Regions from separate parts of the Homo sapiens genome. Here region 2 is linked to region 1. The links come from fine-mapping of genetic effects on gene expression. A gene starts in region 1. The other region holds a variant in brackets. All regions are shown on one strand. Distances are between the middles of the regions. Region 1 holds the start of RIOK2 (RIO kinase 2). Region 2 overlaps LOC101929710 (a long non-coding RNA gene).

Region 1 (17,085 bases):
CCAACTTATCTGAGACACTAAGGTTTCTACAGATGATAATTACCTGGTGTTTTCAATTAGAAACAGACATATGTATAGTTACATATATTGAATAGATATATATACATCCACACATACATATTTGTGAGGTAACAGCATCATTAATTACTTTTGGCTCTTTCATCTTGTCAGCATTACAGAATGTGTTGCCCTTATGCATTAGTAACAATTTAAAATACCTTAACGTAGAAGGAAATCACTTAAAAGAGCCCAAATAATCAACAGAGTTATTTAAGATTGAGTCTGTCTGTAGGAATTGAGTCTAAGGTTAGAGAGATGTGGGGACAACAGAATCACACTTGTCATTAAGGCCTTTGAGACACATGTATTATTTGGCTAAAAAATGCATGACTACAAAATAAAATAAATACCTTCATATAGGCAAATTCCTTCATGGCAGAGAGACGAGATAAATATAGCCATGACACATTGTGCCTATGTTTATGATAATCGCGTTTGTTTTTCAAATTTCGAAACGAGGTTCTTCCTAGTCTGTGAAGCTTTAATGCAAATTGTTGTCCTTCTTCATTTGCAACAATGTAAATATCTAGAGACAAAATTTCAAAAACAACCATTATTACACGTTTATTCCAATCAGTTAAAACAATTCTAACTTTCTCTAATTTTATTTGTATCAAAAATGTCATTTTTCCTAATAAAGATTGAGTATCCCTCCTTATCCAAAACCTTCGGACCAGAAGTGTTTTGAATTTTGGATTCTGGTATATTTGCACATAAATAATGATATATCTTGGGAGTTATTAGAAGAAAATTAATTCCTGGTATAAATGAATTTTCAGTGATAGACGTTCAGAGAAAATAATAACCTACTAATTAAGGACACCTTCTGATTTGTACTGCTTCCAATCAACTTTCCAACTTACTGTTTAGTTAGAAAAAAGGGAAAATTAAAAGAGGAAAGGTTTCTGAAGGGAAAACATAAACTAAAGCAAAGAAAATACTTTGCACAGTACTATTAGCACTTACCTGATTCTTTGCCAACACCCATCTGGTTTCCAACAGACTCAACTACTTGCCTAGAAGAAAGTGTTTTCAAAGCTAGGTAATCATATCCTGCATTTGTCAACCGATAGCCCTGGACAGCTAGACAAAAATCAAAGCATAAAGACCATATTTCAGTTACATTGTACAACCAAGTCACGTAAGTTCAAGTCATAAGAAAGATTTAACAATAAAGTCTTCATTGGAAAAAGATAAACTGCCCAGGCTCACAAGCTTCCAATTTCTTCCTATAATTTGCATTTCTTCTCCAGTGTACTGATAATCAAAATGTGACCTACAGACAGGTCTGTAAGTGTTTGTGACAAGATAAAAGGAGGAATTTAAGTTCAATTTGTATATCAATTTGACCTAGAATTTATGTCTGTTTTTGTATATCTGTTATCCATTTCATTTTTCTAGTAATTATTTTTTTGTATTTTATAAAAGTAAGGATCTGTGATAGGTTGGAAAAAACTAATCCTTCACCACAGATGGTTTCAGAAGTAATGATCTAGGGTATGACTACTGATTGTATTTTCCAAAGATGGTAGCCACAATAGCTTTATCCTATATGCTCTTCTGCAGTACCTACATGCTCTTCATGCTCTTCTACAGTACCTACATGCTCTTCTGCAGTACCTACATGCTCTTCATGCTCTTCTACAGTACCTACATGCTTTTCTGCAGTACCTACTTGCTCTTCTGCAGTACCTACATGCTCTTCTGCAGTACCTACATGCTCTTCTGCAGTGCTCTACCTGCTCTTCTGCAGTACTCTACCTGCTCTTATGCAGTACCTACGTGCTCTTCTGCAGTACCTACGTGCTCTTCTGTACTCTACATGCTCTTCTGCAGTACTCTATGTGCTCTTCTGCAGTACCTACGTGCTCTTCTGTACTCTACATGCTCTTCTGCAGTACTCTACCTGCTCTTCTGCAGTACTCTACCTGCTCTTCTGCAGTACCTACGTGCTCTTCTGCAGTACCTACGTGCTCTTCTGCAGTACTCTACATGCTCTTCTGCAGTACTCTACATGCTCTTCTGCAGTACTCTACGTGCTCTTCTGCAGTACCTACATGCTCTTCTGCAGTACCTACATGTTCTTACTACTATTCTTTTTTCACCTCCTTTGATCTGGGTGTGCCCTGTGATTATTTTGACTAATAGGATATGGCCGAAGTGTGTTCTGTCAGTTCTTCGTCTAATGCTTTACTAGTCTGGCAACTTCTACTTCTTGACTTTTGGAACACTTGCTCTGGTGGAAACCAATTACCTGAAAAATCACAAATGGTGCCTCAAAATACTTACTTTTGGTACGCTCCCAAGCTATGAGTTTATGTTTCACTAATTCTCTTAAAACTTTATTACAGCCACCATGTTTAAGGCTGGCTATAGAAGCAATCAAACTGCCGGGAACAATTTCATGGTTCTTCATGCCCATTTCAACCTGAAATTAAAGGAATCATTATATAATCATAATCAACACAAAGCCTTGTCTATCAAAACCCTGCGAAATTAACTTCTCCTTGAAGCTTTCCTGACTATGCAGTTCTCCAACTAATTCTGAGACATAATCACTTCCGTCTCTTGAAAATATTTTTAATTGCAATTTGAAATCTAATCATTGATATTTGTATTGGCTTTCCATTTCAAGAGTAGGAACTGTGAGTGCTAGACATACTGATGACATTTGGTCAATGCTAAAATACTTGATGACACCTAAACATTTGTCTTTAAAAACTACAGATATGCCAGATATTTATTAAGCAGGTATTTAATGAGAAAGTACTACATGTAGGCATCGTAGAGGATATATATATATATATGAATGATAGACTGGATAAAGAAAATGTGGCACATATACACCATGGAATACTATGCAGCCATAAAAAAGGATGAGTTCATGCCTTTTGCAGGGACATGGGTGAAGCTGGAAACCATCATTCTCAGAAAACTAACACAAGAGCAGAAAACCAAACACCACATTTTCTCACTCATAAGTGGGAGTTGAACAGTAAGAATACGTGGACACAGAAAGGGGAACATCACACACTGGGGCCTGTCGGGGGGTGGGGGGCTAGGGGAGGGATAGCATTAGGAGAAATACCTAATGTAGATGGGATGGGTTGATGGGTACAGCAAACCACTATAGCATGTGTATACCTATGTAACAAACCTGCACGTTCTGCACATGTACCCCAGAACTTAAAAGTATTTTATATATATATATAATATATATATATAAAATATATATATATTATATATATATAATATATATATAATATATATATTATATATATATTTTTAAATTTATTCCTCAGAGGTAAAAAGCACATATATATATATCTCTATCCTACATGCTCTTCTGCATGTGTATATGTATATATATATATATGTATATATATATATATATATGTGCTTTTTACCTCTGAGAAATTTTTATCTCATGATGGAAATTTTAAAAAATGGTATACATCTAAGTTTATTAGAAGTTAAGAAGTGATAAGTGCTTAAAAAGGTAGCTCAGGGCAGAATAAGAATACTTCTAGCTGAGGGATCAGTTCCAAGGAAGATGCAAAACTAGAGACTGACTTTTAAAAGATGTGGGCATACAGAGAAAACAGACAAGGGGATATTAGTGAAAGAAAAAGATTTGAAAATGGCACATATGCAAGAAAGTACTGACCACAGAGAATAGCTGAGTACAGTAGCAGCTCAGATGGGATAGCATATAGAATTCATGCAAACGCGGCTGGAAGATACTTCTAGGATAGAGAAGGCATTAAAATGTAGACCAAATACTTTTATATTTTATCCTGATGAGAGCAGGAAGCTCTTGAAGATGTTTAGGCGTGGGAGACACACGAACAGGGTTATTTTAAGGACATTAATGTACCAGGAATATGCAAATTGGCTTAGAGATGGCAAAATCTGAGGGGGTACTCCGGAGAACTAAGACAGAAGTCCAGCTCAGAGGAAAGAGCCACCAGAACAGGGTAAGTGGTAGTGGTACTGGAAGGAAGGAATAAAAATCTTTAGGAAGTATTATGGGAGAGCTTGGCAATTAGATGTGGAAGGGTAAAGGGAACGGAAAGCCACAATTGGAAGTGATGAGGAAAAGCAAGTTTTAAGATTTTATTATTTTTTTTTTTTATAGAGCTTGGGAAAAGAGAAAGGGGGTAGAAAAAAATTGAATTTGGTTTGAGCACTGAGAGTCAAATAAAAATGTTTAAAGGAAAACTGGAGGCCAGGTGCAGTGGCTCACACCTGTAATCCCAGCACTTTGGGAGGCCAAGGTGGGTGGATCACGAGGTCAAGAGATCGAGACCATTCTGGCCAACATGGTGAAACCCCATCTCTACTAAAAATACAAAAATTAGCTGGGCGTGGTGGTGTGCGCCTATAGTCCCAGCTACTTGGGAGGCTGAGGCAGGAGAATCGCTTGAACCCAGAAGGTGAAGGTTGCAGTGAGCTGAGATTGTGCCACTGCACTCCAGCCTGGCAACAGAATAAGACTCCGTCTCAAAAAAAAAAAAAAAAGAAAGAGAGAAAATTAAATAGGAAAGGGGCCTATATTTAGGAATGAAGTTATAATTAGAAGGAAAAATTGTCAATTATTTTATAGAAGTGAGAGTTGAAGATGTGAAGTGGATGCTATCACTGAGCAGGAGATAATGGAAGAAAAGGAATGTTTGGGAGCAGAATTCTGGGGCAAGTTCATATTGAAAGCTAAGGGCAGCTAGTCAAACAATGATTATTGATATAGGAGGAGCCAAAGAAGTAAAAGGGAAGAGAGGCCCAAGAAAGGGTACCAACACTGGTGAGATTCAACTGAGACCGGAATGTCATATTTAATGACTAAGTCATTTCTTGGTGAACTTTACAAATAATTTAAATATTGCAGCGCCAATGTTTTGGAAGATAAATCTGGCATCATTTTGATGTCTCACCAAAACCTTAACTTTTAAATTTAACTTATTTTCCATGCTTTGTCTCTGCCTCCCCCGTCCTCTAACACTCTTACTTTTGACCCCTACTTCTGTCAGAGACACTAAGGAATGAGTGTGCTGAGAAAGCAGGAAAGGAAGGTATCTTTCCGAAGTGATAGTAGGTTTTCATAGAGAAAGTCCAGCTGATTAGAAGAATCTACATGAGAGGCAAAGTAAACATTGTCTTCCAAATTTCACACTGATTTTGCATTTGATAGTTTAATACTTAAGCGCTATTTAAGATTAATTTTAAAAATCCAAAACTTGAAGCCTTAACATAATGCAAGAACCAGTGTGACTCACATCGCATATCCTATTACATAATTACACAATATAGGTAGTCCTTATCATGGGGTTCACTCCTTACCAAAAGATAACGGCTCCTAAATAAATGTACAAATGTCTTGATCTATATATTAATTTCTGTGCCATAAGACTGAGGCCATAAAATCAGATTTTGTTACTCCCCTGATTAAAAACATTTAGTGGTTACCCCCACATTCTTTACCAAACCTCCAAGGCTCTGTAGTACATAATTTCTCACCTTTTCCGCTACATCTCCAACCATTAGTGTGCATCTCACTTTGCTCCAGCCACATTACATTGGCCTTTCCTCTCTTCAAAGACTTTTCTGTCTCAAGGCCTTTGCACTTACTACTGCTGTTTCCTCTGCCTCCAACTCTTTCCAAGGACTTCACTGGGCTGTCTCTTTCTCACACAGCTCCTATTATTCCCCCATTCATTCTTTCATTTAGTGAATATTTATTGATTGTCTACCAAAGGCCAATAACTTGTGCCCCTCCTCTCCACCAGATACATATACTTTCTATGCCATTATCCTTTATCATTTTCATAGCATTTATCCATTATCCTATTTTTCGTTTACTTGATGATCTGTGTCTCTCTCTCCACTTGTCTGTTTGAACAAGTGAACCTCCTAATGTTGCTACTAAAAAACCGACAAATATGTGTTGACTGAATGAATCAGAAAGACTGCTATGCGACTGAGTCTGTTAGTAGGGAAGTCAATATTATCAAATCTCGGGGGGGGGGGGGGGCTTAAACCTTTCACAGCTGGTCGGAAGCTCAGGATCAGAGAAGTTTCCAGGCCACAGAGATGCAAGCGTTTCTCTTCAGCGCAAAGCGAATAGCAGCAGAAAAGAAAACAATTATTAGAAGACGGGACCTTTGCTCTATCTGGGGGAAGGTAAGCTCCCAAACAAAACCTTTTTAAAAATCCGACTTTCTGAATGCTCTCTTCTCCATTCCCAGCTTCTGCCACGTCCCGGGTCCCAGAGTGTGCCTGCTCAGATCCCAGAAAACTTGCAGGAACAGGAAGAGGTCACACAGTGTTAAGGGGAAGGGAGAACAGGAACGGCGGGTTTCTTACCGCGGTCAAGACCCTGAAGTCATCTCGGCTCATGTAACGCAACTTGGCCACATTCACTTTCCCCATGGCGGCCCCAGTCCGAACCCAGATGCCTCTCCGACGACAGCCGCAAAGCGTAAGGCAGGTCGTTATTCCAGCCTCTAAGCGCTTTACAGCGCCAGATGGCTCGCGCACGCGCTGCGTCTTAGTATAGGTCCTTGTTAATAGTTAGAAGTGCTGTTCTCATTGATATAGGAAAATAAAACTACTTGTATGTCTTATGAAACACATAGTATGTAACAAGTGAACGTTTTATTTTTGTGTAATTTTTGCGTTGTGACTGAGTTGGCGGAGTGTAGATATTCTCTACAATGTGCCTTTTTTTTTCCATATCTGTCAGGACTTGCTGCCTCAATGACACGTTCCGCCTCAGAGAGCAAAGTGGTTACTTAATGGGAGGAGCAAATTTTTCCCGCAAACAACTTCTACTCTAGGCAAAGTGACTTCCAACAAGACAGGGGTAAAAGAACCTGAGCTAGAGTCCAGACAACCAAATCTGTTAAAGGTAAAGTGGACTGTAATCACACAAGCACGCCCTCTACTCCTAATTGCGCCTGCTCCGGCAGCTCCGGAGGGCGTGGTTAATGGAACTCATGCGCTTGCTCAGTACTTCTCTTAGGTTGGTCTAGGAGGCTTCGAAGTGCGCCTGCGCTGGTTGGGGTGGGAGTTTAAGGTGACACGTGGAGAGCGCGGCGGACGTCCTTACCTCCAGAGGAAGTGGGGATTTTGATAGTTCGGGCTGACCTACGCGGGTAGGACTTCGAGGGCCCAGGAGCGATTTAAGGATTTTAGAATAGTTACCCATACTGGCTCTGCAACTCCTCGATATTCAAGCCTTTGTCTGCTTTTTACTTGAATGCAGCATGTCTTTGATTAACCATCTTCAACCAATGAACATCTCCATTTAAACGGAATTTTTCTTTCTGTACTTACATAAGAAGGCATAGAAATGAATTTTTTTTTTATTTTTGAGACAGAGCCCGGCTCTGTCACCCAGACTGAAGTACAGGGGCGCGATCTTGGCTCACTGCAACCTCTGCCCTCTAGGTTCAAGGGATTCTTCTCCCTCAGCCTCCTAAGTAGCTGGGATTATAGGCTCACACCACCACGCCCTGCTAATATTTTTATTTTTAGTAGAGATGGGGTTTCGCCCTGTTGACCAGACTGGTTTCAAACTCCTGGCCTCAGGTGATCCGCCCCCCTCAGTCTCCCAAAGTGCTGGGATTACAGGCATAAGCCACCGCGCCTGGGCGAAAAGTTTTTAAAAAAACCAAGTGACTAACTTTATTTGTACAAATTTATGGGGTACGTGAGAAATTTTGTTACAAGTATTTAGGGTGTCTGTCATCCAAATACAATATATTTTTGTGTAACTATAGTTACCCTACTCTACTATCAAGCAGTGAATATATTCCTTCTATCTGACTCCATGTTTGTAACCTTTAACCTACTCTCTTCATCCTGTTCCCACTCCCCTCATCTTTCCCAGTCTGTTATCTGTCTTTCCACTCTCTACCTTAATGTGATCAAATTTTTTAGCTTCCACATATAAGTAAGAGCGTGTGATATTTGTCTTTTTGTTCCTGGCTTATTTCCCTTAAGATAATGACCTCCAGCTCCATCCACGTTACTGCAAATGGCAAGATTTCATTTTTTATGTCTGAATAGTACTCCATTGTGTATATATACCACATTTTCTTTATCCATTCATCTGTTGATGGACACTTAGGTTGATTCCATAGCTTTGCTATTGTGAATAGTGCTGCGATAAACATGCAAGTGTAGGTATCCCTTTGATATACTGATTTCTTTCCTCTGGGTAGATACCCAATAGTGGGATTGCTGGATTGAATAATTCTATTTTTAATTTTTTGAGAAATCTCCATATACTTTTCCACAGTGGCTGTACTAATTTACATTCTCATCAACAGTGTATAAGAGTTCTCTTTTCTCCGCATCTTCACCAACATCCATTATTTTTTGTCTTTTTAACAGTAGCCATTTGGACTGGGGTAAGATAATATCTCATTATGGCTTTGATTTTCATTTCTTATATACTTAGTGATGTTGAGCAATTTTTCATGTACCTGTTGGCCATTTGTATGCAAATAACTAACTTCTAGAGCAAGAATGGAATGGGAAACAAGCCATTTATGTTTCTACTCCGAATCCAGCACTTTAGCAAATGTTCCTAATCTATTATGGTGTAATTCTTACATTATTTCTCAACATTGCCTCAGACAGCCACCATTAACTGAGTGGAATTGACTAGAATTGCTATTGGTGTTCTGAAGTATGCCTTACGGTTAATCACATTAAGTCCAAATCTCTTATATTTGGAATATTACTTTTAAAATAAAATCATTTTAATAATCAGAACTTTGAAGAGTAAAAGTAAGTGATTGAAGTGCAGTTTGGTATTCTGTTCTACTCCCTCATACCATGCTTAGTGATGAGTAAAACAAAACATGTACAGTATTATTCGTTAATGCATTCACTATTCATCAAACATATATGCCATACTTTTTTACTAGGTCCTGGGGAATCAATCTCAACCCTCATACCTGTGTTGGAGGGTGAAGAGTAGAAAAATAGAGAGTAGTGTGACACAGATGTGCAAAAGGTGTATCATGTTGGTGTTTCCTCCTCCCTTACCTCCCCTGCCCTGACCCTGTCCTTACAAGTTGCAGAGAACCTTAACTGTCTACAGATCAAAGTGCACGTTTAGACTGGCATTCAGGATTGTCAACAATCTGTATCACCATCTTCAAGCAGTTTGTACTCTTGTCTAATTGAACTACTTTTGTTTTCCCTGTATAACTCCCTTAAATTTCTTTTTTACTAAGTTTTCCCTTCACCTGTAATACTTTTCCCTCCACCTGTAATATTACCTCTTCCCTACTGTTTTTCTTCTTTTTCAATCACAATATATGTAAATCTTATCTACCATTAAAATTCTATTCACCACATAAGGTTTTTCTTTATTATTCCTATTTATCTCTATATTAATTTTCTCTTGCTGCTGTTAACATATTACCGCAAACTTTGACGACTTAAAACAATAGAACTTTATTCTCTTACAGTTCAGGACGCTGGAAATAAGAGATTATTTTTACTGGGTCAAAATCAACGTGTTGACAGGACCATGTTCCCCCAAGAGGGGCTCTAGTGGAGAATTTGTTCCTTGCCTTTTGCAGCTCCTACTGGGATTTGGTGACTGCTGGCATTCTTTTGGCTTGTGGCACATCACTCCAGTCTCTGTCTCCATGCTTACGTTATTGCCTTCTCTACTCGTGAGTGTGTGTGTTTCCTTCTGTCTCTGTCTTATACAAATACATGTAATTGCACTTAGGATCCACTCAGACCCTTAATAACATCTGTAAAATATTTTTTTCCATATAGGATAAATTCTTAGGTTCTAGAAATTAGTATGTGGATATTTTTGGATGGGTCATCATTCAACCTCTCACACTCTCAAAGGGAAGTAAGTGCTCCTCCCTCTAATCTTCTGTAGCCTGTTGTCTTTAATGATTCTGGCCACTTTTTAACCTCTCCTGCTTGCCCATAGGTTAGGTTAATTACAGAAAAAGTTGAATGTGGAGACTGAATTTAAAGCATAGATTCAAGAAAAAGAAATTTTGTATATTTACATTTAAGATATTATACTAGCTAAAACTCAGAAAAAATTATGATAGATTTTACTGCATATGGGTGGTAGCGCCATACATTTGCATATAAGGGATATCAGTGGTGGAAAAAGACACAGAATGGAAGATAGGGATGTGTGGAGTTTATGGCAAGTTTCAATGGGAGACTCACAACACAAACTTGTTGAATTCAGAAGCATGTTCAGAATACACAGCAGAGATTTATATACCTTTTGAAAAATAGCTCCTGGCGTGCTGCAGAGCCCTGGGAGAGATGTGTTGCTTGGCGCTGAGATATCACACAGGTGACATCGGGGTCACAGTTGTTCAGTAATGATCTATCCTAAGATGAAAGTGGTACGTGCAGGAGTGAACACAAGCAGGACCAGAGGGTGCAAGCTGCATGAGCAGGTGGACTGGACTCTTTCATGTCATCCACTACCATTGCCCAAGTGCCTTTCCCTCAACTTATATCTCCATGGGTGATACCTTTGATCAGTTGGTGAAGCAAAAAAAGCCCACATTAGATTCACGGATGGGTCAGTTTGATTTTGTAGTTGAACTACAGCTCTATTTGTGTGTCCTTGAAAGAGAAGTGATCAGGGAATATCCTCCTGATGGGCAGATCTTTGGAAGGTGCACTTCATCATTCACTTTGTGTAGTAAGAGAAATAGCCCCAGGTTAAAATATACATGGACTCATGGGGAAGGGTGAATGGCTTGGCTGGTTGGAAAGGGACTTGGAAGAAGAATTAGTAGATTGGGAACAAGGATGTCTGAGGTAGAGGGGTATGAGAAAGGATATATGGGTGTGCACAAGAAATGTGAGTAAAGGAACTGGTCCGTGGCCTGGGGGTTGGGGACCCCTGCTTTCGAGTCAAAAGCCTCGAGGCCTCCTTTGGTACTACACCACAGTTAAACTTTTTCCTTTGCCTAATCCTACTTCTTTCCCTGCTCTTCTTAAAGAGTTGATCATAAGAGCACTCTGTATTAATATTCCCACATGCCACTCTGCAGTACAGAGTCGGCTTCGTGTGAAAGTCCACCTTCACCAGTGTTTTTCTGGGCCTTCAGCATAGTGATAATGGGACCCTTCCATAAAGGTGGGATAGGCAAAATAAGACCTCCAACTGAGAGATATTATCATTGGCTTAACTCTGACACTAACTAGTTTTTGATCTTGGGTATGCCTTTAATTTCACTCATTCAAACAAGTTTTTATTTTGAATGTTTACAATGCATTTTGGTAGACAAAACTCAGTTCCTTTACTCAAGAAGTTTATAGGTCTAATGGGTCATAGGTTCTTTATTTGTATTATGAAGGGGATAGACTTGAATTAGTGTTTCTAAACCTCTTGTTCATTTAAGTCCCCATCACAGACCCCGTCACCTTCATTTCTTTGTGGTTGAGAATCACTCTCTTCTGTGTATCCTTAAGGACCAAGAATATTTGGTTAACTGAATATCCAAAACAATCTTGATCAGTAAATCTTGTCCCTTACCCCCCTTCCCACCTGAATCCACAAAGCTCATTGTATCATTCTTATGGCTTTACATCATCATAGCGTAGCTCCCACTTAATAAGTGAGAACATATGATGTTAGGTTTTCTATTCCTGAGTTACTTCACATAGATGGAATCTCCAATTCCATCCAGGTTGCTGCAAATGCTATTATTTAGTTCCTTTTTATGGCTGAGTAGTATTCCATGGTCTATGTGTATGTATGTGTGTGTGTGTGTGTGTGTGTGTGTATCACAATTTTTTTTTTTTTTGAGATGGAGTCTCGTTCTGTTGCCGAGGCTGGAGTGCAGTGGTGCAATCTCGGCTCACTGCAAGCTCCGCCTCCCGGGTTCACGCCATTCTCCTGCTTCAGCCTCCCGAGTAGCTGGGACTACAGGCGTCTGCCACCATGCCTGGCTAATTTTTTGTATTTTTAGTAGAGATGGGGTTTCACCATGTTAGCCAGGATGGTCTAGATCTCCTGACCTCATGATCTGCCCACCTTGGCCTCCCAAAATAACTGGGATTACAGGCATGAGCCACCGTACCCGGCCAACATATTTTCTTTATCCACTTGTTGATTTATAGACATTTGGGTTGGTTCTATATTTTTGCAACTGCAAATTGTGCTGCTATAAACATATGTGTGCAAGTATCCTTTTGTATAATCACTTCTTTTCCTCTGGGATTGCTGGATCAAATGGTTGATCTACTTTTAGTTCTTTAAAAAAATCTTCATGCAGCTTTCCATAGTGGTTGTACTAGTTTGCATTCCTACCAGCAGTGTAAAAGTGTTCTCTTTTCACCACAACCATGCCAACATCTATTATTTTTTGATTTTTGGGTTATGGCCATTCTTGCAGGAATAAGGTGGTATCATATCATGGTTTTGATTTGCATTTCCCTGATCATTGGTGATGTTAAGCATTTTTTCATATGTTTGTTGGCCATTTGTATATCTTCTTTTGAGAATTGTCTATTCATGTCCTTAGCCCACTTTTTGATGGGATTGTTTATTTTTTTCTTGCTAGTTTGTTTAAGTCAATTCCTTGTAGATTCTGGATATTAGTCCTTTGTCAGATGCATAGTTTGCAAAGATTTTCTCCCACTTTGTGGGCTGTTTTTTCTTCCTAGTTTGTTTAAGTCAGTTCCTTGTAGATTCTGTATATTAGTCCTTTGTCAAATGCATAGTTTGCAAAGATTTTCTCCCACTTTGTGGGCTGTTTACTCTGCTGATTATTTCTTTTGCTGTGCAGAAACTTTTTAGTTTTATTAAATTCCATCTGTTTATTTTTGTTTCTGTTGCATTTGCTTTTAGGTTCTTTGTCATTAAGTCTTTGCCTGAGCCAATGTCTAGAAGGGTTTTTCTGATGTTATCTTCTAGGATTTTTATGATTTAGGTCTTAGATTTAAGTCTTTTATCTATTTTGTGTTGATTTTGTATAAAGGGGAGATGAGGATCCAGTTTCATTCTTCTACATGTGGCTTGCCAATTATCCCAGCACCATTTGTTGAATAGAGCGTCCTTTCCCCACTTTATGTTTTTGTTTGCTTTGTCAAAGATTGGTTGGCTGTATTTGGCTTTATGTCTGGGTTCTCTTTTCTGTTTCATTGGTCTACATGCCTATTTTTATACCAGTGCCATGCTGAGTTGGTGACTATAGCCTTATAGTATAGTTTGAAGTTGGGTAATGTGATGCCTCTCTACTTTCCAGGAATTTATCCATGTCTTTTAGGTTTTCTAGTTTATGCATGTAAAGGTGTTCACAGTAGCCTTGAATGATCTTTTGTATTTATATAGTGTCAGTTGTAATATCTCCTGTTTTGTTCCTTATTGAGCTTATTTGTATTTTCTCTCCTCTTTTCTTGGTTAATCTTGCTAATCGTCTATCAATTTTATTTATCTTTTCAAAGAACCAGTTTTTTGTCTTATTTATCTTTTTTTTTTTTTTTTTTGAGATAGAGTCTCGCTCTGTCGCCCAGGCTGGAGTGCAGTGGCATGATCTCGGCTCACTGAAAGCTCTGCCTCTGGGGTTCATGCCATTCTCCTGCCTCAGCCTCCCAAGTAGCTGGCACTACAGGCACCTGCCACCACACCTGGCTAATTTTTTGTATTTTTAGTAGAGACGGGGTTTCACTGTGTTAGCCAGGATGGTCTCAATCTCCTGACCTCCTGATTCATCCACCTCGGCCTCCCAAAGTGCTGGGATTACAGGCGTGAGCCACCGCGCCCAGCCTTATTTATCTTTTGTATTGTTTTATTTTTGTTTCAATTTCATTTAGTTCAGCTCTGATCTCAGCTATTTCCTTTCTTCTGCTGGGTTTGGGTTTGGTTTGTTCTTGTTTCTCTAGTTCCTTGAAGTGTGACCTTAGATTGCCTATTTGTGCTCTTTCAGACTTTTCGATGTTGGCATTCAGTGCTATGAAGTTTCCTCTTAGCACTGCTTTTGGTGTATCCCAGGTGTTTTGATAGGTTATGTCACTGCTATCATTCAGCTCAAAGGATTTTAAAATTTCCATCTTGATTTCATTGTTGACCCAGTGATCATTCAGGAGTAGGTTATTTAATTTCCATGTATTTGCATGCTTGTGAGGGTTCCTTTTGGAGTTGATTTCCAATTTTATTCCACTAGAGTCTGAGGGAATACTTGATCTAGTTTTGATTTTCTAAATTTATTGAGACTTGTTTTGTGGCCTATTATATGGTCTTTCTTGGAGAATGTTCCATGTGCTGATGAATAGAATGTATATTCTGCAGTTGTTGGGTAGAATGTTCTATAAATATCTGTTAAGTCCATTTTGTTTTAGGATATAGTTTAAGTCTGTATTTCTTTTTTGACTTTCTGTCTTGATGGCCTGTCTAGTGCTGTCAGTGGAGTACTGAAATCCTCCACTATTATTGTGTTGCTGTCTATCTCATTTCTTAGGCAGGTCTAGTAGTACTTGTTTTATAAATTTGGGACCTCCAGTGTTAGGTGCATATATATTTAGGATTGTTATATTTTCTTGTTGGACTAGTCCTTTTATCATTATATAATGTCACTCTTTGTCTTTTTTTGTTGTTGTTGTTGCTTTGAAGTCTGTTTTGTCTGATATAAGAATAGCTACTCCTGCTTGCTTTTGGTGTCCATTTGCATGGAATGTCTTTTTCCTAGTTTATGTGAGTCCTTATGTGTTAGATGAATCTCTTGAAGTCAGCAGTTAGTTGGTTGGTGAATTCTTATCCATTCTGCCATTCTGTATCTTTTAAGTGGAGCATTTAGGTCATTTACACTGAAGTTAGTATTGAAAATGAGATACTATTCTATTTGTTGTGCTAGTTGTTGCCTGAATACCTGCTGCTAATCTGATAGGTTTTCCTTTGTAGGTCACCTGATGCTTTTGCCTCACAGCTCTTAAGATTCTTTCCTTTGCCTTGACTTTAGATAACCTGATGATTTTGTGCCTAAGCGATGATCTTTTGCAATGAATTTCCTGGGTATTCTTTGAGCTTCTTGTATTTGGATGTCTAGATCTCTAGCAAGGCCAGGAGCTTCCCTCGATTATTCCCTTAAATATGTTTTCCAAACTTTTAGATTTCTCTTCTTCCTCAGGAACACCAATTATTCTTGGGTTTGGTTGTTTAACATAATCCCAAACTTCTTGGAGGCTTTGTTTATTTATTTTTTATTATTTTTTCTTTGTCTTTATTGGACTGGGTTAATTTGAAAGCCTTGCTGTCGAGCTCTGAAGTTCTTTCCTCTACTTATTTGATTCTATTGCTGAGACTTTCCAGTGTATTTTCCATTTCTCTAGGTGTGTCCTTCATTTCCAGAAGTTATAATTGTTTTTTATTTATGCTATCTGTTTCTCTGGAGATTTTTCCCATCCATATCTTGTATAATTTTTATTTCTTTAAGGTGGTATTCACTTTACTGTGGTGCCTCCTTAAATAGCTTAATAATCGACCTTCTGAATTCTTTTTCTGGCAATTTGGAGGTTTCTTCTTGGTTTGGATCCATTGCTTGTGAGGTAGTGTGATTTTTTTGGGGTGTTAAAGAACCTTGTTTTGTCATATTACCAGAATTGTTTTTCTGGTTCCTTCTCATTTGGGTATACTATGTGAGAAGAAAAGATCTGGGGCTCAGGGGCTATTTTTCAGATTCTTTTGTCCCACGGGGTGATCCCTTGATGTAGTAGTGCTCTCCCCCTTCCCCTAGGGATGGAGCTTCCTGAGAGCCGAACTGCCGTGATTGTTATTTCTCTTCTGCATCTAGCTACCAGTGGATCTACGAGCTACCAGGCTCAAGGCTGGTACTGGGGCATGTCTGCAAAGAGTCCTGTGATGTTATTTATCTTCAGGTCTCTCAGCTATGGATACCAGCATTTGCTCTGGTGGAGGTAGCAGGGGAGTGAATTGGACTCTATGAGGGTTCTTGGTTGCAGTTTTGTTTAGTGCACTGGTTTTGTGTTGGTTGGCCTCCAGCCAGGAGGTGGTGCTTTCGAGAGAGCATCAGCTGTGGTAGTATAGGGAGGATACAAGCTTGCCTTAGGGTTGCCTGCATAAATATTCAGGTTTTTCAGGTGGTAGTTGGGCCCATAGAGCTCCCAAGAAATTATGTTCTTTGTATTTGGCTATCAGGGTGGGTAGAGAAAGACCATCAAGTTGGGGCAGGGTTATATGTGTCTGAGCTGAGATTTTCTTTATGTGTGGCTTGCTGCAGCTGCTGTGGGGGGCAGGGTATGGTTCTTAGGCTTGCTAACGGAGTTATGTTCCCAGGGGGATTATGGCTGCCTCTGCTGCATCATACAGGTTACCACAGAAGTGGGGAAAAGCCAGTAGTGACAGGCCTCACCGCAGAGCCTGAAGGGCCAGTCTTACTCCCACCGTGCCCCACCAACAGCACTGAGTTTATTTACAGGCAGCTGGTGAGCAGGGCTGAGAACTTGCCCCAGGCTACAAGCCTCCCTGCTGAGAAAGCAAGCAGGGCTTTCAGGTTTCCTGCCTCCCCACATGCCACAGTTTCTGTGCTTGTATCTGTACTCCTAGGTTGCCCCCTCCCTTGGATTCGGTCCAGGAAACTTCGCCTTCAGTCAAAAGTGTTACAAAGTTTGTCTGGAAATTTCCTTCTCCCTTTGGTCTTTCTGTAATTCCACTGGCAGCCCTCCTCAAGGACTCCTGCGAGAGAAAGTCAGGAATGGCTTCCCTGGGGACCGAGAGTGCCCCACAGGGCTCTTTCTGCTGCTTCCTCTACTTCTGTATTTTGCTTGGCTCTAAGTTTGTCTCAACTTCAGGTAAGGTCATATTCTTCTCCCATGATCTAAATCTTCACATTCCCCAGTGAGGATGTATGTTCAGGGGTGGACATCCTTCCTCTCACACTTTGGGCACTCACAGTTTTCTGGCTGTCTTACTGAGCCTGCCGCGGCAAGCTGCTTCATTCAAAGTGTCTATGGATTCTCTTGGTTTTCCTGGTATGTTCCTGTTGTAGTTCTTGG
Region 2 (17,085 bases), 830 kb before region 1:
GCAGAGCCAACACATTTTCTGTGCCAAGTACAATTCCCCAGGCTGAATTATATTTCAAATTTGTTTGCATTGGTTCTTTCATTATTGCTTACACAAATAGAGCTGAAAAACCACATGGTTAAGTACAGAATACCGTGATATAATGACTTGTAGACACAAGGGGTCAGCATTTGAACACAGATGATTTGGTCGAAGTCTTGCCTTGTTCCCTTCTGCTGCTCTACTCTGGCTTGATGTGCTTATGTGTATGAGGGTAGATATGGAAATGAAATTCAATTTGTATTTTGCACATCGCTTTCTTTTCCAGTTTAGAATTTTGAGATCTCCCTTTTATATTTAATCAGTCTGTTATTGTCATGGGAGATGATATCTAACAAGGAGTCTTACCAGTCTCACTGGCCCCAATGGTTTCAGCAAACTTCAGTGACCTCCAGATATACGCTAATTTTTCTCTTCCCAAAAGAGCTTCTTAACCTAATCTACTCTTTTTTGAAGAGTCTTAACCTAACCTACTCTTTTTTGAAGAGTCCCTAATCTATGCTTGCTTAATACATGTGTTGGATGATACACTATTTTACTGATACAAATCTACCAGAAACAGGAGATTTGTGGTTGGAGAGATTGTATCTTGATTCTGAGCTTATTCTGAGCTTTCGACTTAGCATTGGGCTCCATTATAATTGCTCTGTCTTTGATCTGTCCTTTCACTTTCTACGTCTAACTCAGTGCAAATGCATGCTACAGTATCTCTTAAGAAACACTATATTATTCCCATAATTAAAAATTATTACAGTAAAATTCACTTTTTTGGGTGTACAGTTCCTTAGCTGGGTATCACTGGCTCAGGGTCTCATGAAGCTGTAATTGAGATGTCAGCCAGAGCTGCTCTCCCATCTGAAGGCTTAACTGAGGGAGAATCCACATTTGCTCATGTGGCTATGGGTGGGATTCAGTTCCTCAGGGACTGTTGGACTAGGGACTTCAGTTCCCTGCTGGCTGTTGCTGGAGGCTTCCCTCAGTTCCTTGTCATATCTCCATAGGGCAGAGTGACCCAGATGACACAGCTTGTTTCCACACAGGTGAGAAAGTGAGAGACTGAGAGAAAGATGAAAGTCAGGGTGTTTTTGTAACCCATGTAAAAGTGACATCCCATCATGTTTACTGTATTCTATTTATTGGAAGCAAAAGTAGGGAGGATTACACAACAGTGTGAACATCAGAAGGCAGGGATCACTGGGGACCATTTTAGAGGTTGCCACCATAAAGGCTGTCACAATGATCCAATTGAGAAATGATGGAGTTTGCATTTGGGTGGTGCCAGTAGGCTAACATCCTCCGATTGCAAAATATGAGTGACATTTAGAAGAATAAAATTGCTAAAACATGATGGTTGATTGGCTATGGTAGATAAAGGAATAAAAAATTTTGAAGAAGACTCCAGATTTCGGGCTTGAGCTCCTGAGTAGATGGCAGTACTATTCACTTATAATGATATTCTGCAGGAAGGCAGAGATCGTGACTGCTGTTTCGGACATATTAGCTTGCAAGTACCTGTGAGGCATCTAATTTGAATATCAGGCAGGTGGTTAGATATTCAGATTTTGAGCTTATAAGAAAGTTGTGGATCAGATAATGGATTTGGCTTTTGTCACTGTAGAGATTGTAATTGAAGCCTGTCTTAGGTCCAGTTTCTAGGAGCACAAATTTCCCAAATAACAAGTGAGTCAGTAGGAATGAAGTGAACAGACTCTTTCTAGTTCTACCCCTTGACTCCTGGATTCGTATATTCTACCACTGGATACACAGTACCACATAATGACCATTGGTAGAAGGTATATACTACATCCTAAAGCAACACCCAAACCTCATAATGTATCGTCTGTAAGCTGGCACCTCAGTTGTGACTTTAAGAAACTGTTCCAATCTCTATCAAAATAGCAATATCTGGGCTATACAGTATGTGGGAATTGGTGGGTTCCATACTCACGCACCTGTTCTGTGACCCCCATCTGTCATAAGTTGGCTTCCTGGTCTGATGCAATATTATTCAGGATTCCATGTCAGTAAATCAAGTACTCTGTGAGTCTTTGAATAGTAGGTGTGAATTGAGGCACTGCGGGCAGAAAGGCAAACCTATACCCAGAAAATATGCTATTCCTGGATAAGACAAATCACTTCTCTTTTCAAGGTAGAAAAGGAATTATTTGCAACTAAATGGTGTCTTCTTGAGAGATAGCATACTGGGCATCTTTCAGACGGGTTTCAGCAGTGGCAGTAACTAGATCAGCATTGGTGGGAGGGAGACCCTTCCACTGGGCTCACGCAGAGCCTCCATTTGAATATCCGTGACTATTCTTTGAGGAGGCCCAGTGTGCCAGCCCTGGTGTGGCCAGGGCTACCTGACATTTACCAGTCAAGTCATCCTGTCCATCTAGTTTTGTAGAGCCTCTTCTACAGTGAATACTCCCTAATGGACATTAATGCATGATACACAGTTTGCCCATTCCTATGGGTCCATGAACCTGTTTCTACTCCAGATCTCTTTGTTCCCAATCTTCCAATCCAAATAGTTCAATTCCAAATGATCCATTCTGCACTGCTCAGAAGTCCGTGCTTATCCTTCCTTCAAGCCACTCTCTTCACACAAAGTGGATGACCAGGTGCACTCCTGTTCAAAGCTGGGACCTCTGTCATGCAGCAGCAGTCTATTTTTGTTTGTACTAGCATACCAAGCTGGTCTATCTGTAAATCAGACCTTGGTTTTTTTCTCTCCTTCATCACTGGCGGGTCCTCAGTTATTATACAGAACCATTTTGGCATACCTGCATCTTGGGCTTTTGAATCTCTTCCTTAGAACTCTGGCAAGACTACTCTGGTACCTCCACCTCATTTAATGTGAGTCAGCCTTATCATCCCACACCAAGTTCCTAAGAGTCATCCCAGCAATGGAATAAGACCAGTTCTAAACCCCACAGGAAATCCTCTGAAGGGTCATTGGGAGCAAAAGTGAACTAAAACCAGGGAAGAGGCACAGAGACTGGTAAAGATGATTTGAAGAGAGCTGTGCAGCCACTAACCGTGTCTACTATGAAGCCATCAGGGTGGATGATGTGGAGAGAGGGTGAAGTGAGAAGAACACAGTAGTTCAGAGAGAGCCCTCCCTACAAAACCCCCAAACCCCAATAGTTAATGATTAATAGAGAAAGTATTGCCTACAAATAAGACAGAAATCGAGTTTCAAAAGATGATGCCAGACAATGTTTTAAGTAAAGGATTATTTCATTGAATTGGCAGATGCTGAGTCATTAAGTAAGCTGAAAAGTTCAAATGCATTCATCGGATGTAGTATCATGGAGGTCAATGATGACCTTGTCAAGGGCAGTATCAGTGGCATGGTGGGCCCAGGAGCCAGATTTAGAGTAAGAGTTGGAGGAAAGTAAATAAAGCCAAGTAAAGAAAGGTAACAGAAGAAGGAAGGGAAGAAATAGGATGATGGATGGAAAGGACTATAGGATTAAGGGAATATTTTATTCTACTCTTTGTTTTGTTTTTAAATTTGGAGAGACATGAATAATGCTAGTTTGAAGGAGGCCTGGGAGAGAGAGGGAGAGGGAGAGAGAGAGAGAGAGGGAGAGATAGAGAGATTTGTTGGTGCCTGATTCCTAAGGAGAAGACTCTAGGGAAAAAGATTCTAAGTCCAGATGAAGGAATTGCTTTTGATGGTAAGGGACAATCTCCATATTGCAACAGAAAGGTGGAGAAAATGATAGTTTTGGGATTTGATGGTGGGAAGTTGAGGCTATATAGTTCCAATCAGATGGTTTATTTTCCCCCAGTAGAAGACAGGGTCATTTGCTAAGAGTTCATGGGTTGGAGAAAGTAAGAGGATTGAGGATGGTGGACAGTGTCTGAAAGAAAGGACAGATGGTGTACAGAGGAGGCAGATGGCAATGGCAATGAGGAAGACAGAGACTGTAAGCCTGGACTCAGCAGGTCCAGGATTTACAGAGGCTGGAAAAATATTTGTCTGGAACATGAACCCACTTCCAGCCCTGAGATACCTGGGGAATTAGGAAATATGCCACTTCTATCAAAAGGGCTGTAACGGAAGTGGTGTTCCACATGGGAAGTTAGGGTTAATTATGAGCAGAAAGTGCAAGGAAGACATGTTTGAGAATGTAGAAGAATTGTTTCATAGAGCTGGGGTTTCTGAAGAGTAAAATGAAGATTTTGGGAGTTTGGGAAGGACAGGGATTAAGTCAGGAAGGAGAAAACATAGAACATTACACAAACCAACAAAATATTCTATAATTTTTTTTTTCTGGTCTCTCTCTCATTTTTCTTTTCAACCAACAAGGACACTATTTTTTTTTTTTTTTTTTGCTAGTTATCAGTATAAACTGTTCCCTATCCAAGGGAATTCAATTAGGACAATTTGCAAAATTGAACTAAAATAAATCTCAGCTGGAATTTAAGTTGACTGGTTGCTCTGGTCTAAATTGAGATACTGCTTTTAAGAATATATTCATGTTTGGGCATTAAGAGTTCACCATTTTCCTGTGATTATAATTAAATATTATTAACTTCTCTCTCCTTGACCTCTCTGTGGCATGATTATTTTGCTGTAATTTTAAAAAGATCTACTTTTAGCCTTTGGATGCAACACATGTAACTGTTCATCAAGGATCAACTGCAGGTATTTTTGTCTTTCATATGTATCAAGAGGCCTAATTGTTATCATGAGTCTATTAAAAACTCTTTGGCGTCAGCAAGACATTTACACTTATAAGGAAGAATAGATAAATTTGTATCTTTCAAAATAAGAGGATGTTAGCTGCTGAAAAAATTTCACTATTTTCAATTGCATACTTCATTAAACCTAAGAAGGTGCATTGGAAAATAAAGACTAAAAAGTAGATTGACCTGTAGTTGTTGAGGAAAGGGTGTGCTTAGGAACTGGACATTATTTTGTAAGTGACAGGGAGCCAGTAAACTCCTTTCTGTTTGTGTAACTTTCACCATCAGAACTGAGCTTTAGTAAAATAGCTGCTATGTGGAAGTTGGAATGGAGAGAGAGAGAAATTGAAGGCAAGAAGGAAAGGAATAAGCTAGTGCAGTGGCTTAGGTGAGAAATAGCATCAGTCTAATCTACACAAATGACCAGGAATAGAAACGTGGTGATGAAGTAAACTAGATAGATAACACACACTTGATTGACAATCGACTAAATTGCTTGATTTGTCAAATTATACTGGAAAGGTCATAATTCCTGATCTCATGTTTGTAAGCCAAAAAGTGTCTGCGACAGGTCTCAATCAATTTAGAAAGTTTATTTTGCCAAAGTTAATGATGTGTGCCCAGGAGGCAAGTCTGTGCCTTTCTCCAAAGATAATTTTAAGGGCTTCAGTATTTAAAGGGAAAAAGCAAATATTGGGGAAAGAGAAATAAATTGTTAGAAGGTGTGTGTAGATAAGAGACAAACAGTTGCACTCTTTTGAGTCTTTGATCAGCCTTTCACCAAATACACAATTTACGTATGAGAAGGAGGTAGAGGAATAGTCACTTATGCCTTCATCTGGCTCCATAAATCTGCATTTTACATCAGAGTAAGCAATCAGATATCCATTTATCTCAGGTGAGCAGAGGGAGGACAAAGTTCTGTCCTTTGTCCCCCACCTGTGAAGATAAGCTGTCAATTTACATTGTCAGGGTAAAATTCAACAGAATTGTTTTAGGGTGAAGATATTGGAGCCCACAAGGAATTTCCTAGTGGGCAAATTGTAAGGGACATATGTAGCTTTTTTTTCTTTGTGGCTATCTTATTTAGAAATAAAATAGGAGGCAGGTTTGCCTGACACAATTCCCAGCTTGACTTTTTTCTTTGGCTTAGTGATTTTGGGGTCCCGAGATTTATTTTCTTTTCACACATTTTTCACTATTCCACTCCAACTTCCTCCTTCTCCATGTGCCCCCAAATATCTTTCTGAGCCATAAAGAGTTAATGTTAAAAGGAACAGCACATTTCCTGACATCCATAACACTAGGGAAGAGGAATAGAACACAACTGCGTAATTATCATTGCACAATCACAACTGGAACTGATTGTTTCAGCTTGAAAATGGCTCTTGATTTCCCCTGGTGACATTTTCAGACCTTCATTATAAGTGAAGAACCTTGGTAACCATGTCATGCATTTTTCTGTGGTCTGAAACATATCCATTTAATGAGATGATGACCTTTATTTATCTACAAAATGTGAAACCATTAGCTGTTAACCAAACATACAGAGTGAGGTTGAGACAGTAACTTAGGACTTTGAATCTCAGAATTTAGATGTTTTTCTAAACAACACTTAGACAAAGTGAACAGGAATTTCTTCTATTACTAGGGATTTTGATATAAAAACACATAACATCATAACTCTGTAGTTGAGTGTGTATAATGGATTGTATAACTGTTTACTAATATTCAGTGCCCCACCTGTAAGAAAAATTTGTATTTATCTGACCCTTAGGTTTGGCCATGTGACTTGCTATGGCCAAAGAGATATAATGGCGGTGGCATGCGTGTCCTTTTCAGGTGGAAGTTTAAGAACCAGTGCATTTTTTGCCACACTGTCTCTACACATTGCTTCAGCAATGGGTAATGTAGATTGTGTCCACTCTCTCAGGCTAGGTCTCTGGGTGAGGACAAAGTGACAGAAATCAGAACACTCAACTGGCACATGAGGGAAATGTATTATAAGCAAGAAATAAACTTTGCTGCTTTAGGCCACAGAGATGTAGGGTTGTTTGTTATCCCAGTATAATTAAGCTATCTCAGTTTGTTAAGGGTATATGTCTACTGCACACCTGTATTACGTATCTGGAGTCATTTTTACAAGAAAGAAACACTGAGGGGAAAGGTAGTGTGGGTGTAATGAGAAAAAACTGTTAGAAAACAGTCTTTAAATTGTCACTAGAAATTGGTGAAAAAAACTCACTGTTCTTTTATGTTTAACTATATACTGCTATAAAAATGATCAAATATTTTGTTTTAAGTGCTTAGGGATAGAGAAGAAGGTGGAGAAATTGGGAGTGCAAAATAATAAATGTAGAAAGAAATGGAAAGTTCTCCAGATTTTCTAAAAGGATCACAGAAAAGTTAACTAACCGAAATGCCTTTAATTGCAGAGACCAAAATAACTGTTGGGTGGGTATTTTTGTGACTCCTTGTCTGGAATTAGCCTCTAGAGTGTACCTCACCATACAGTCACATCTTAGAGGACCATCCCAACACTTAGAATATTAGAGAGGTCTATCAGATCTGCCCATACTGTGATGGCCAAAGACTGGCTGGAACTCAAGAAAGTTCATGAAGAGCCTTTCTCCAAGGTGCTTAAGACTTTATCATGTTTATACATGTCTTTTTGGTCAGAAAGAATTTGTTTTGTGTCTCTTTTTGTGTTCTTCAAAGTGAAATGTGTAAAGTGAATTCAAAAGTCTGATGGGAAAACGTCTGGTGAGAGGATAAAATCAGGACCTTACTTTAGTGTTACTTTGAAGAAAGTAAGCAGGAGTTACTTCACCTGACTCATGAAATTTGCTTACGTTTCATTGCTTTGTATATGTGTTTGTGGAAGGGGCTCCAAGAAATTGAACATAACATAATTGACTAGCAATGTACCAGGCAACTGTTTCTAAGGGTTTCAGAAGGCTTTTTAAATTTTGTTGCTTGAGAATCTTGGCATCCATGATTCAGTGTGATAGGAGATCTGGTTTTAGCTTTTTCTCTATGTAGGAAGAATTTATTTCCACCAACAGGGGTAACACCATTCCTTTTAACACAATTATCAAAATAAAATAAATCTGCATAAAGGAACCAAAGTCTTGGTAAGACGTGCTTAGGTTTTCTGGACAGGTATGCAGTTAATATGGTTTGGTTCTCTGTCCCCACCAAGATCTCATCTCAAACTGTAATACCCACATGTCAGGGGAGGGACCTGGTGGGAGGTGATTGGATGATGGGAGTGGATTTTCTCCATATTGTTCTCTTAATAGTGAGTGAGTTCTCATGAGACCTGATGATTTAAAAGTGTGGCACTTCCCCCCTTGCTCTCTCTCCTGCTGCCATGTAAGATGTGCTTGCTTCCCCTTCGCCTTCTGCCATGATTGTAAGTTTCCTGAGGCCTCTCTAGTCATGCAGAACTGTGAGTCAATTAAACCTCTTTTCCTTATAAATTACCCAGTCTCAGGTAGTTCTTTACAGTAATGTGAAAATGGACTAATACAGCAGTCTTACATGAGCATGGTCAGGATTTGTGGACAATACCAGAAAGAGGCAAAAACTTACAAATACTGATTGATAAAAAAAAACAATACTCGAAGACTTATTTTTGAACAAGCACATAAACAAAAACCAAGACTTACTTTATCATTACCTATAAAAGCAGGTGAACAATAACCATACTTTTTAGATGGGGGATGTAGGAAAGTGAAGAAACAAACCCAAATTTTATCTTCAGTTTAGCTAGTACAGCACTCCAGACTTGTGTATATAATTTGCCTACTAATCACTTCCACTTAGATGTTTAAGTGGCATCCAAACTTATATGACCTAACTGCACTCTTGATTTCCTCCTTCCTTATCCTGCTGTGATGGTTAACTTTATGTGTCAACTTGACTGGGTTGCAGAGTGTCCAGATCGCTGGTAAAACATTGTTTCTGGGTGTGCACATGAGGGTGTTTTCAGAAGAGATTAGAAGTTGAATCTGTAGACTGAGTAAAGAGAATCCACCTTCACCAATGTGAGTGTGCATCATCCAGTCTGTTGAGGGCCTGAATAGAACAAAAGGACAGATGAAGGATAAATTCACTCTTGTCTGGAGCTGTGATTTTCATCTCCTTCTGCCCTTGGATAGCAGTGCTTCTGGCTCTCAGGCCTTTGACCTTTAGGACTTAACACTATTCTTCTCCTTCCCCTACCCAAGGCTTTCAGCCTCAGACTGAATAACATTACAAACTTTCCTGGTTCTTCAGCTTGCAAACAGCATGTGGTGAATCATCTCAACCTCCATAATTGCATGAGCCAATTCTCATAATAAATCCCCCCTTATCTATCTATCTGTCTCTATCTCGATCATCTGTATCTATATCTCCTGTTGCTTCTATTTCCCTGGGGAACCTTGACTAATACCTGCTTTTCATATAGTCTTCCACATCTCAGGATATTGAAACTTCATCCTTCCAGCTTCTCAGGCCAGAAACCTTGTAGTCATGTTTGATTCTCTTCTTTCTCTCATATTCCACATTCAATACATTGGTAAACTTGGGCAGCTTTACTTTAAATACATATCAAGAATCCGACCAATTACCACCACCTCCATTGTTATCACTAAACCATCACCAGTCTCCTGAACCAAGTGAGAGCCCCTGCTCATTTTCCCCTTCCCAATCTTATCCTCCTAGTGATTCTTTTCCACAAAACAGCCAACAGGATTTTTAAAAACTTTTAAAACATAATTTAGAAGTATTTTTTAAAAATAAAGTACACATATACATAAAGAGTCAAATAATTTCACAAGGTTGTTACTACAATAGCAGTCCCTTACCACCCTCACCACCCCATCTATGTAGCTTCTCAGAGGCAGCCATTTTGAACTCCTTCAACTGATTGGTATTGACCGCATTTCATTAAATCAATAATGCCTGAGATTCTATAATGCAACAAATGCTGCCAGTTAAACTATGATACACCATGGGTTGAGACGTATCCTGATTATGGAGATGTTGAAATGTAAAAAAAAAAATGTATGTCTCAGGATTGATGAAATATGGTATTTTCATTTCTTTGAATAACATGTTTATATATGTATCTGTATGTATATTTACACATGCTTATGTACCTATAGACAGTATATATTATGTATATTATATATAATATAAATTATGCAATGTAAATATAATATATAAGATGTTATGCATATTATTAATTTTATATATATTTACGTATATATTTCTTTGTTCTGGAGCTTAGGCAATAAATGTTAACTTCCCACTGTGAAAGATGAAGGTCTAGTATGCTTTTATTTATTTATTTATTTATTTTTAATCAAACAATTTACTTTTTATTTTTTCTTAATTTTTTAATATTGCATTTTCAATAT[G/C]AGAGTATCTTCAGACACTAAAATATATTTTGGTCAGTACAGATTTCAAAAATTTTACCTATGTCTCTGGATGCTTCTCTTTTCATTCTTTATAGTTCTTTTTTTTATATAGTTTAAGTTCAGGGATACATGTGCAGAACGTGCAGGTTTTTTACATAGGTATAAATGTGCCATGGTGGTTTGCTGCACCCATTAACTTGTCATCTAGGTTTTAAGCCCCGCATGCATTAGGTATTCCTCCTAATGCTATCCCTCCCCTAGCCCCCCACCCCCTGACAGGCCCCAGTGTGTGATGTTCCCCTCCCTGTGTCCATGTGTTCTCCTTGTTCAACTCCCACTTGTGAGTGAGAACATGCGGTGTTTGTTTTCTGTTCCTGTGTTAGTTTGCTGAGAATGATGGTTTCCAGCTTCATCCATGTCCCTGCAAAGGGGATGAACTCATCCTTTTTTATGTCTGCGTAGTATTCTGTGGTATATATTTGCCACATTTTCTTTATCCAGTCTATCATTAATGGCATTTGGGTTGGTTCCCAGTCTTTGCTATTGTGAACAGTGCTTCAATAAACATACGTGTGCATGTGTCTTTATAGTAGAATGATTTATAATCCTTTGGGTATATACCCAGTATTAGGATAGCTGGGTCAAATGGGATTTCTGGTTCTAGATCCTTAAGGAATCGCCACCCTGTCTTCCACAATAGTTGAAATAATTTACACTCCCACCAACAGTGTAAAAGCATTGCTATTTCTCCACGTCCTCTCCAGCATCTGTTGTTTCCTGACGTCTTTTATTTTTTTTTTGAGACGGCGTCTTGCTGTGTCACCAGTCTTGAGTGCAGTGACGTGATCTCAGCTCATTGCAACCTCTGCTTCCTGGGTTCAAGCGATTCTCCTGACCCAGCCTCCCGAGTAGCTGGGACTACAGGTGCACACCACCACGCCCAGCTAATTTTTGTATTTTTAGTATAGATGGGGTTTCACCATTTTGGCCAGGATGTTCTCGATCCCTTGACCTCATGATCTGCCCAGCTTGGCCTGCCAAAGTGCTGGGATTACAGGCATGAACCACTGCACCCGGCCTGTTTCCTGACTTTTTAATGATCGCCATTCTAACTGGCATGAGATGGTATCTCATTGTGTTTTTGATTCGCATTTCTTTAATGACCAGTGATTATTAGCTTTTTTAAATATGTTTGTTGGCCACATAATTGTCTTCTTTTGAGAAGTGTCTGTTCATATCCTTTGTCCACTTTTTGATGGGGTTATTTTATTCTTGTAAATTTGTTTAAGTTCCTTGTAGATTCTGGATATTAGCCCTTTGTCAGATGAATAGATTGCAAAAATTTTCTCTCATTCTGTAGGTTGCCTGTTCACTCTGAGGATAATTTCTTTTGCTGTGCGGAAGCTCTTTAGTTTGATTAGATCCCATTTGTCAATTTTGGCTTTTGTTGCAATTGCTTTAGGTGTTTCAGTCATGAAGTCTTTGCCCATGCCTGTGTCCTTAATGGTATTGCCCAGGTTTTATTTTAGGTTTTTATGGTTTTAGGTCTTACATTTAAGTCTTTAATCCATCTTGAGTTAATTTTTGCATAAGGTGTAAGGAAGGGGTCCAGTTTCAGTTTTCTGCATATGACTAGCTAGTTTTTTCAACACCATTTATTAAATAGGGAATCCTTTCCCCATTGCTTGTTTTTGTCAGGGTTGTCAAAGATCAGATGGTTGTAGATGTGTGGCATTATTTTTGAGGCCTCTGTTCTGTTCCATTGGTTATATATCTGTTTTGGTACCAGTACCATGCTGTTTTTATTACTGTAGCCTTGTAGTATAGTTTGAAGTCAGGTAGCGTGATGCCTCCAGCTTTGTTCTTTTTGCTTAGGATTGTCTTGGCTATGCAGGCTCTTTTTTGCTTCTATATGAAATTTAAAGTAATTTGGTCTAATTCTGTTTAGAAAGTCAATGGTAGCTTGATGTGGATAGCATTGAGTCTATAAATTACTGTGGGCAGTATGGCCATTTTCACAATATTGATTCTTCCTATCCTTGAGCATGAAATGTTTTTCCATTTGTTTGTGCCCTCTCTCATTTCCTTGAGCAGTGGTTTGTAATTCTCCTTGAAGAGGTCCTTCACATCCCTTGTAAGTTGCATTCCTAGGTATTTTATTCTCTTTGAGCAATTGTGAATGGGAGTTCACTCATGATCTGGCTCTCTGTTTGTCTATTATTGGTGTATAGGAATGCTTGTGATTTTTGCATATTGATTTTGTACCCTGAGACTTTGCTGAAGTTGCTTATCAGCGTAAGGAGATTTGGGGCTGAGACAATGGGGTTTTCTAAATATACAATCATGTCATCTGCAAACAGAGACAATTTGACTTCCTCTCTTCCTATTTGAATACCCTTTATTTCTTTCTCTTGCCCGATTGCCCTGGTCAGAACTTCCAATACTATGTTTAATAGAAGTGGTGGCAAAGGGCATCCTTGTCTTGTGCTGGTTTTCAATGGGAATGCTTCCAGGTTTTGCCCATTCAGTACGATATTGGCTGTGGGTTTGTCATAAATAGCTCTTATTATTTTGAGATACCTTCCAACGATACCTAGTTTATGAGAGTTTTTAGCATGAAAGGCTGTTGAATTTTGTCGAAGGTCTTTTCTGCATCTATTGAGATAATCATGTGGTTTTTGTCTTTGGTTCTGTTTATGTGATGGATTACATGTATTGATTTGCGTATGTTGAAGCAGCCTTGCATCCCAGGGATGAAGCCGAGTTGATTGTGGTGGATAAGCTTTTTGTCGTGCTGCTAGATTTGGTTTGCCAGTATTTTATTGAAATTTTCGCATTGATGTTCATCAGGGATATTGGCCTAAAATTCTCTTTTTTTGTTGTTTCTCAGCCAGGCTTTGGTATCAGGATGATGCTGGCCTCATATAATGAGTTAGATAGGAGTCTCTCTTTTGCTATTGTTTGGAATAGTTCCAGAAGGAATGGTACCAGCTCCTTTTTGTACCTCTGGTAGAATTCGGCTGTGAATCCATCTGGTCCTGAACTTTTTTTTGTTGGTAGGCTATTAATTACTGCCTCAATTTCAGAACTTGTTATTGGTCTATTCAGAGATTCAACTTCTCCTTGGTTTAGTCTTGGGAGGGTGTGTGTGTCCAGGAATTTATCCATTTCTTCTAGATTTTCTAGTTTATTTGCATAGAGGTGTTTATAGTATTCTCTGATGGTAGTTTATATTTCTGTGGGATCAGTGGTGATCTCCCCTCTATCATTTTTTATTGTGTCTATTTAATTCTTATCTCTTTTCTTCTTTATTAATCTGGCTGGTGGTCTATCTATTTTGTTAATCTTTTCAAAAAACCAGTTCCTGGATTCATTGATTTTTTGAAGGGTTTTTCGAGTCTCTATCTCCTTTAGTTCTGCTCTGATCTTAGTTATTTCTTGTCTTCTGCTAGCTTTTGAATTTGCTGGTTCTTGCTCCTTTAGTTATTTTAATTGTGATGTTAGGTTGTTGATTTTAGATCTTTCTTGCTTTCTCTTGTGGGCATTTAGTGCTATAAATTTCCCCCTAAACACTTCTTTAGCTGTGTCGCAGAGATTCTGGTACGTTGTGTTTTTGTTCTCATTGGTTTCAAAGAACTTATTTATTTCTGCCTTAATTTCATTATTTACCCAGTAGTCATTCAGGAGCAGGCTGTTCAGTTTCCATGTAGTCGTGTGGTTTTGCTTGAGTTTCTTAATCCTGAGTTCTAATTTGATTGCAGTGTGGTCTAAGACACTGTTTGTTATAATTTCCATTCTTTTGCATTGGCTGAGGAGTGTTTTACTTCTAATTATGTGGTCAATTTTAGAATAAGTATGATGTGGTGCTGACAAGAATATATATTCTGTTGATCTGTAGTGGAGCGTTCTGTAGATGTCTCTTAGGTCTACTTGGTCTGGAGATGAGTTCAAGTCCTGAACATCCTTTCCTTGTTAATTTTCTGTCTCGTTGATCTGTCTAGTATTGACAGTGGGGTGTTAAAGTCTCCCACTATTATTGTGTGGGAGCCTAAGTCTCTTTGTAGGTGTTTAAGAACTTGCTTTATGAATCTGGGTGCTCCTTTATTGAGTGCATATATATTTAGGATGGTTAGCTCTTCTTGTTGCATTGCTCCCTTTACATTGTGTAATGTTCTTCTTTGTCTTTTTTATCTTTGTTGGTTGAAAGTCTGTTTTATCAGAAACTAGGATTGCAACCCCTGCTTTTTCTTGCTTTCCATTTGCTTGGTAAATATTTCTCCATCCCTTTATCTTGAGCCTATGTGTGTCTTTGCATGTGAGATAGGTCTCCTGAATACAGCACACTGATGGGTCTTGACTCTTTTTCCAATTTGCCAGTCTGTCTTTTAATTGGGACATTTAGCCCATTTACATTTAAGGTTAATATTGTTACGTGTGAATTTGATCTTGTCATTATGATGCTAGCTGGTTATTTTGCCCATTAGTTGATGCAGTTTCTTCATAGTGTCAATGGTCTTTACAATTTGGTATGTTTTTGCAGTGGCTGGTACCTGTTTTTCCTTTCCATATTTAGTGCTTCTTTCAGGAGCTCTTGTAAGGCAGGCCTGGTGGTGACAAAATCTCTCAGCATTTGCTTGTCTGTAAAGGACTTTATTTTTCCTTTGCTTGTGAAACTTAGTATGACTGGATTTAAAATTCTGGGTTGAAAATTCTTTTCTTTAAGAATGTTGAATATTGGCCCCCATTCTATTCTGGCTTGTAGGGTTTCTGCAGAGAGATTCACTGTTAGGCTGATGGGCTTCCCTTTGTGGGTAACCTGACCTTTCTCTCTGTCTGCCCTTAACATTTTTTCCTTCATTTCCACCTTTGTGAATCTGAAGATTATGTGTCTTGGGGTTGCTCATCTCGAAGAGTAACTTTGTGGCGTTCTCTGTATTTTCTGAGTTTGACTATTGGCCTGTCTTGCCCGGTTGGGGAAGTTCTCCTGGATAATATCCTGAAGGGTGTCTTCCAACTTGGTTCCATTCTCCCCGTCACTTTCAGGTACACCAATCAAACATAGGTTTGGTCTTTTCACATAGTCCCATGTTTATTGGAGGCTTTGTTCATTCCTTTTCATTCTTTTTTCTATAACCTTGTCTTCACACTTAATTTCATTTAGCTGATCTTCAATCTCTGATATCCTTTCTTCTGCTTGATCGCTTCAGCTATTGATAGTTATGTATGCTTCACAGAGTTCTCATGCTATGTTTTTAAGCATCATCAAGTCATTTATGTTCTTGTCTAAACTGGTTTTTGTAGTTAGAAATTCCTCTAACATTTTTTCAAGGTTCTTAGCCTCCTTGCATTGGGTTAGAACATGCTCCTTTAGCTCAGAGGAGTTTGTTATTACCCACCTTCTGAAGCCTACTTCTGTCAGTTTGTCAAACTCATTCTCCACCAGTTTGTTCCCTTCCTGGTGAGTAGTTGTGATCCCTCAGAGAAGAAGCATTCTGGTTTTTGAATTTTCAGCCATTTTGCACTGGTTTTCCTCATCTTCGTGGATTTATCTACCTTTGGTCTTTGATGTTGATGACCTTTGGATGGGGTTTTGGTGTGGACGTCCTTTTTGTTGATGTGGATGCTATTCCTTTCTGTTTGTTAGTTTTCCTCCTGACGGTCAGGCTCCTCTGCTGCAGGTCTGCTGCAGTTTGCTGGATGTCCATTCCAGATCCTGTTTGCCTGGGTATCACCAGCAGAGGCTGGAGAACAGCAGAGATTGCTGCCTGTTCCTTCCTCTGGAAGCTTCATCCCAGAGGGGCAACCGCAAGATGCCAGCTGGAGCTCTCCTCTATGAGGTGTCTGTCAACCCCTGCTGGGTGGTATCTCCAAGTCAGGAGGCACAGGGGTCAGGGAGCCACTTGGGGAAGCAGTCTGTCCCTTAGCAGAGCTCAAGAGCTGTGCTGGGAGATCCACTGCTCTCTTCAGAGTCAGCAGGCAGGAATGTTTAAGTCTGCTGAAACTGCACCCACAGCTGCCCCTTCCCCCAGGTGCTGTGTCCCAGCCTAATGGGAGTTTTATCTATAAGCCCCTGACTGGGATTGCTGCCTTTTTTTCAGAGATGCCCTGCCCAGAGAGGAGGAATCTAGAGAGGCAGTCTGGCTACAGTGGCTTTGCTGAACTGCGGTGGGCTCTGCCACTCAGAATTCCTGGCAGCTTTGTTTACACTCTTAGGGGAAAACTGCCTACTCAAGCCTCAGTAATGGTGGATGCCCCTCTTCCCACCAAGCTCGAGTGTCCCAGGTCAACATCAGACTGCTCTGCTGGCAGCAAGAATTTCAAGCCAGTGGATCTTAGCTTGCTGGGCTCTGCGGGGGTGGGGTCCGCTGAACTAGACCAGTTGGTTCCCTGGTTTCGGCCCCCTTTCCAGGGGAGTGAACAGTTCTGTTTCGCTGGCATTCCAGGCACCACTGGGGTATGAAAAAAAAACTCCTGCAGCTAGCTCAGTGTCTGCCCAAATGGCTGCCCAGTTTTGTGCTTGAAACCCAGGGACCTGGTGGTGTAGGTACCCAAGGGAATCTCCTGGACTGCAGGTTGTGAAGTCCGTGGGAAAAGCATAGTATCTGGGCTGGAATGCACTGTTCCTCACGGCATGGTCCCTCCTGGCTTCCCTTGGCTAGGGGAGGGAGTTCCCTGACCCCTTGCACTTCCCATGTGAGACGATGCCCCACCCTGCTTCAGCTCACCTTCCGTGGGCTGCACCCACTGTCTAACCAGTCCTATTGAGGTGACCCAGGTACCTCAGTTGGAAATGTGGAAATCATCTGCCTTCTAGGTTGATCTCGGTGGGAGCTGCTGACAGGAGCGATTTGTCTTCAGTCATTTTGCCAGCCACACCGCTCTAGTATGCTTTTTTTTTTTTTTTTGCTTCTTTTCTTTTTTTTTTTAGTTATACTTTAAG

Evidence for each region.
Region 2: its variant is fine-mapped to the expression of RIOK2 in fibroblasts (GTEx, PIP 0.96).

What each region holds. Positions count from the first base shown.
Region 1 is chr5:97,176,706-97,193,790 of GRCh38, forward strand. RIOK2 (RIO kinase 2) reads right to left here and starts at 6,542. Exons shown (of 10, transcript NM_018343.3): 1 at 6,421-6,542; 2 at 2,350-2,488; 3 at 1,027-1,143; 4 at 411-586. The coding sequence starts at 6,486. RefSeq lists a silencer at 16,553-16,602.
Region 2 is chr5:96,344,776-96,361,860 of GRCh38, forward strand. All of the region lies in intron 3 of LOC101929710 (a long non-coding RNA gene), which reads left to right. It also overlaps a transcript of CAST not described here. Among named protein-coding and RNA genes, the nearest start is that of PCSK1, 80 kb to the right of the region's middle. The variant G/C (reference allele first, on the strand shown) is at 10,146.